Regions from separate parts of the Homo sapiens genome. Here region 2 is linked to region 1. The links come from fine-mapping of genetic effects on gene expression. A gene starts in region 1. The other region holds a variant in brackets. All regions are shown on one strand. Distances are between the middles of the regions.

Region 1 (2,918 bases):
AGTTTCAACTACTGAAAATAGTTTGTATAAATCCGAACAGGAAGACATTTACTTAAGCCCAATGTGCGTTCACTTATCTATATATTACATAGTTACACCACACCTGAAACTTCAGGAACTTACTCTGCCAAGCTCACAGTACTGCCCCGCATTAACAACACACTTATTAAATAGGGAAGTGTATACACTGTTTTCAACAATCAACTTTAGCCAATCTGACCTTTTTCCAAAGCGTTATTGTTTGTTTTGAAACTTTTAATCCAATAAGAGCCTCTGTCGATGCCATCATGAATTCAGATGTGTTTATTTTGGAGCCTACACCAGCGCCTTTTTTGTTTGCTCTTTCCGGCAATTCCCCAGTGAGGAAGCCCCTGGAGGAAAGTCTTTCGCTACCGTCGGCACTGGAGGGGTGAGAGCTGTAAAAGGGAGAATTGGGAACGGCATGGGGTTGGCCACTCCAGCACTTGAGCAGCTTTCTTCTGCGTTAGGAAGCCTGGGGAGAGGGGAACTGGCTAAAGGGCAAAATGTCACTGAGGAACTTCGGAGAAGATGGGGACAAGGCGTCGGGCGGGGGAGCCAGCGCTCAGGTGAGAACTAGGAAGGGGGCGGCGCCCAGGGACCGGCTCCAGGCGGCGGCGGGCGGGGAGCTGCCAGGAGGTGGGTGTGCGTATCTGGGTGTGTCCCGGCTGCGGTGGGGGAGGGGGCCGCCCTTCCCGGGGTCCTGAGGGAGGGGCCCCGCGAGGGGGCGGGTCCGGCAGATCAGCCCGGCCGGGGGCCAAGGGGGTGGAAGGTCGCCCGGTGCCTGGAGGCGGGGTGAAGGAAAGTAGCTGAGCGCCCCAGGAGCGCGCTGCGGCGGAGGGCGGGCGAGGTGACCCCGGTGCAGGGAAGTGGCACTGGGGTGTGGGGCCCGAGTCCAGTCAAGGAGCAGCACCTACCTCCGGGGGTGGAAATGGGCCGGAATGGGCCGGAACACCGTCCCGGAAGTGAAATCCCCCACCCCCTCCCACGGAGCGGGCGACGTGCCGGAAGGAAATCACTCAGCCTTACACCGCCCCCCCTTCCCCCATCCCCAGAGCTTTCCTTGCCTCGCGCCCCCTCCCCTCTCTGCTCTTCCTCCTCAGTCGGGAGGAGGGCGGGAGCACGGCATCACGTGGACGGTCATGTCTCTGCCCACAATGGCGAGGAAGGGCGGGGAAAAGGGGCGGACTTAAGGGGTGGGAAGAAGGTGATACTGGATGAGAGGAAGATTGAGGGAGGTTAGGGGGAGGAGCCGAAGCGGACGCTGCCGGGAGCGTGCGTCGTGACGTCATCAAAAGAACTCTTATATACAGGAGCCCAGGCACCATACTGTCTTTTCGAGGTAGGAGTCGACTCCTGTGAGGTATGTTTTATCTTTGCGAATGTTGCGGGTTTTGGGGCGCTCCAGCCTTTGTCTGCTAAGGTCACCCTGAATTGACTGGGACTTCTAAGCCAGTCGCGCGCCTTTGCAGGGCCTACAAGTTGAGGATGGTGGGGGATTGCACATATGGTGCATGCGTGACCTAAGCTGCGACTATGTTAGAGTAGAACTGCGGAGAAGCCTCGGCTCTCGTGCCCTGCCTCTGATGAAGCCTGTGTTGGTAGGGACATCTGAGAGTAATGATGAATGCCAACCGCTCTGATGGTGGCACATGCCGAGTCACCCGAGTAAGCTATTGTTAAGGGCCGTGACCCGAGCCTCCATCAGCCGTCCGCTCTCATGAAAGGCTGTCGGTGGTAGTCCACGTGCTTAAGTGCCTGCATTCCGCAGTGTCACCAATATTTCCATTAGTGTTTCTTTTTTCTTTTTTGAGACCGAGCCTCGTTCTGTCACCCAGGCTGGAATGCAGTGGCTCGACATCGGTTAATGGCAACCTCCGCGTCCCGAGTTAAGCAGTTCTGCCTCAGCCTCCCAAGTAACTGGGACTACAGGCGCGCGCCACCATGCTAGGCTTTTATATTTTTAGTAGAGACGGGGTTTCACCATGTTGGCGAGACTGGTCTTGAACTCCTGACCTCAGGTGATCCACCAGCCGTGGTCCCCCAACATACTGGGATTACAAGCCGTGAGCCACCGCGCCCGGCCGCCATCGGTGGTTCTTAACTGCGGGTGCAGTGCTTCTTTGTAACATTAAGTGTATCCTTTACCTGTCGCTAGATAATGAATGGTATGTTACCTGCATCATTGGTTTAAAAAGACGAACCGTTTTTTTAAAGAACACTCTTTAAAAAAAAGAACCGTGGAACAATGAATTAAAATCTGTACCTGATCTCTTTAGGTATGGTGCTGGGTGCAGATGCAGTGTGGCTCTGGATAGCACCTTATGGACAGGTAAGAATTGGGGAAAGTATGGTGGGAAGAATGAAATCTAAGAGGTGGTCTCAGCCTGTGATGCTTTAAGAGTAGTGGACAGAAGGGATTTCTGAAATTCTATTCTGAGGCTTTAATGTTAACAGCATTTATATTTAACGTGACTGCTGTGAGGTTCATTCTCACTGTTTTGCTTGCATCTTTTTGTTTTCTAGTTGTGTCCCCAAGGAAGGATGAGAATAGCTACTGAAGTAAGTTGAAAATTCCCTCTCAAAAAGGTTTAAAGCCATTGGATGTGCCACAATGATGACAGTTTATTTGCTACTCTTGAGTGCTAGAATGATGAGGATCTTAACCACCATTATCTTAACTGAGGCACCCAAAATGGTGAGTTGGGGAACATAGAGAGTACACCTAAGTTCACATGAAGTTGTTTCTTCCCAGGTCCTAAAGAGCAAGCCTAACTCAAGCCATTGGCACACAGGTGAGACACCTCTATTTTGTACTTCTCACTTTTAAGGGATTAGAAAATAGCCAAAGCAATGATGATTATCTATGTTAGTGCTTCTCTCCCCTCTTTTCAAATGAG
Region 2 (2,918 bases), 630 kb before region 1:
TCATGCACAGTACCCAGTGCATAACAGGGTCTCAAGTGAACAAATCAAACTAACAGAGCCTCACACTTTAAATGAATGATACATTGAGGGGGCCAGTATGTGGTACAATGAACAGCGTTCCACTTATAAGAAACCCACCGGCTGAGCTCAGTGGCTCACACCTGTAATGCCAGCACTTTGGGAGGCCGAGAAGGGTGGATTACCTGAGGTCAGAAGTTTGAGACCACCCTGGCCAATGTGGTAAAACCCTGTCTCTACTAAAAATACAAAAATTAGCTGGGCGTAGTGGTGTGCGCCTGTAATCTCAGCTACTCTGAAAGCTGAGGCAGGAGAATCGCTTGAACCCGGGAGGCGGAGGTTGCAGTGAGTTGAGATCGCATCATTGCAGTCTAGCCTGGGCTACAAGAGCAAAACTCCATCTCAAAAAAAAAAAAAAAAGAAGAAGCCTGCCACAAGTAATTTATACTGGGTAAATCACTTCACTACTCCAAACATAATTTTCTTTCTTGTAAAATAAGAGGTTTGGACTAAATGATCCCCAAATTCCCTTCAGCTCTAAAAGTTTATGATTACATAACTATGACTCTAAACAGTTTAGAAGTTATTAGGGTCTAAAATTAATAACATTATAATATATGAACTTAAAAGAGAGTCCCAGGAACAGAAATTGAAAACAGAGAGAGAAAGCTATGAAAGTGATGTGATATATGTTTCAGATTTGATTTTATTTTCTCACACTATACAACACTAGAACTGTTGTCATTGCTACAATTAGCAACAACTACCATTTACCAACCCTCAATAAGTGCCAGGCACTGCGCTAAACATCTTATCATTTCATCTTCACAATAATTCGTTGAGATAATTGCCATCACTCCCATTTCATAACCAAGGAAACTGAGGCTCGGAATGGTAGCCCAAGGTAACATTGCTTGAAATGGATGAAGCTCTGACTCAGGCCAATGTGTGTTTGATGCCAAAACCCACCACTAAGAATCCATGTTTCTAGGTATCCAAGCTTTCCAATACTATATAAAATAACCTCAATACTTGTAAACATCAAATTGAAATCCAACAAAAAAGTAAAAACAATAATCCACATTTTGTTATTTTCTATGCCAAAATATACCTGTAGTTTTCCTAAATGTTCTAAGTCATATGAACGGTATACACTAATTTGAAAATCTTTGAAGATTACAATCATCTTTCTACTATGCTATTAATTTTAAAATTAATCCACATAAAATAACTTAA[A/T]TTTTTTTAATTTAAGTGTTTTTAACTTAAATTTCTAAGTTCTGTAAAAGATTTAATCAAGAATATATAAACTATAAGAATATATGAACTGTAAGCCACTCCCCATATCATAATGCATTATATGTGGTAGCAATTTTGCATAAAGAAACTCATTTTTAATTTTCCCCCCAGTTCTACTGGATATGTTCATTGTGATATTTTGGCCTTTTGTAAGATTGAAAAAAAATGAGGGGGTAAATAATTACAACTTACTAATAATTAGAAAACCTACTCTACTTATTAAAATAATTCCTAATGTTATCCAAAAGGAATTTAAACTATAAACAAAAATTCTCTACAGAAATCAAAGAAAATAATATCAAATTTATTTCACTAGATAACATATCAAAGAGTCAATTCTTGGCTTTTTGAGGAGAAAGTAATGCTAAAAAGTCACAATTAAAATTTTGTTTCAGGCCAGGCGCGGTGGCTCACACCTGTAATCCTAGCACTTTGGGAGGCCGAGGTTGGTAGGTCACTTGAGGTCGCGAGTTCAAGACCAGCCTGGCCAATAGGGTGAAACCCCATCTTTACTAAAAATACAAAAAAAAAAAAAAAAAATTTAGCCGGGCGTGGTGGCATGCGCCTGTAATCCCACCTACTCAGGAAGCTGAGGCAGGAGAATTATCTGAACCCAGGAGGCAGAGGTTTCAGTGAGCCGAGATCGCATACCACTGCACTCCAGCCTGGGCAACAAAGCAAAACTCTCTCAAAAAAATAAAAAATAAAAAATAAAAATAAAATAACGTTTTGTTTCAGTTTAAATATATGTATTTCCCATATCCATAAGTTCAATAGACCTGGTTTTTCAAAGTCGCACAGTAATAATAACAAATCATTAAAATGAAGCTTGTAAAACCAATTTGAATTCAACAAGACCTTTTAATTAATTAGCATTCCTAAGCAATATGTGAATATTACAAACATAATCACGTATGGTTAATATTTATGGAAGCATATGCATATTTCTATAAATATATGTAGTTAGGTTTACATATACATTCATATATTACTTCACTCTTCTTTTGTTGAATATACTCTTCTCAATTATCATATTTCAAATCTAAATGAAAAATACATATCAGTGAATTCAAAGCTAAAAAAAACTTAAAGGCCTAAATGATATTATCTTTTCCAAGCATAATTTGGAACTTTAAAAATGTGAAATAAAAAAATAAAACTTGTTTTAAAATAAGCCTCTAAGGTAATGCACTTTCAGGGATTTTATCTTTCCTTTTGGGAGGTATTATAGTGATCACTCTATAGATAAGAACTCTGAGATAAAATCAGTCAGTAAAATTAATTTGAAGACAGTCACTGTCAGAGCTACTAATACTGTAACATGTAACTCCCTGACATTAATAGAGATACTCAACAACAGATGAAGTAGCTAATCAGTTTCTTCAGTTAAGCAAATCAATAACCAACCTACACAGGGTTCTTGGAATCTTTTGTTCAAATGACAAGGTCACTGCTCTTTATAAGCAGTCTTTGTTGGACTGAGAGAGAGAAAATAAAAACAGCAAGGGAATCTGTAAGAAGCTGCCAATGACAAAAGGGCAAAGAGTGGGAGGGAAAGAGGAGCATAAGAACAGGCTCAGAGAATCAGTGTGCCAGAAAGACCT

What was found.
Region 2: its variant is fine-mapped to the expression of GAS5 in whole blood (TOPMed, PIP above 0.99).

Annotation. Positions count from the first base shown.
Region 1 is chr1:173,866,423-173,869,340 of GRCh38, reverse strand. It overlaps GAS5 (growth arrest specific 5), which reads left to right and starts at 1,352. Exons shown (of 12, transcript NR_002578.4): 1 at 1,352-1,381; 2 at 2,298-2,350; 3 at 2,545-2,580; 4 at 2,774-2,813. ZBTB37 (zinc finger and BTB domain containing 37) reads right to left here and starts at 961. Exons shown (of 5, transcript NM_001122770.3): 1 at 936-961; 2 at 221-416. SNORD76 (small nucleolar RNA, C/D box 76) reads left to right here and starts at 2,626; the gene lies at 2,626-2,706. SNORD75 (small nucleolar RNA, C/D box 75) reads left to right here and starts at 2,403; the gene lies at 2,403-2,462. It also overlaps SNORD74. RefSeq lists an enhancer at 1-882 and a silencer at 517-926.
Region 2 is chr1:174,497,601-174,500,518 of GRCh38, reverse strand. The region is part of intron 13 of RABGAP1L (RAB GTPase activating protein 1 like); the gene reads right to left. Among named protein-coding and RNA genes, the nearest start is that of GPR52, 51 kb to the right of the region's middle. The variant A/T (reference allele first, on the strand shown) is at 1,255.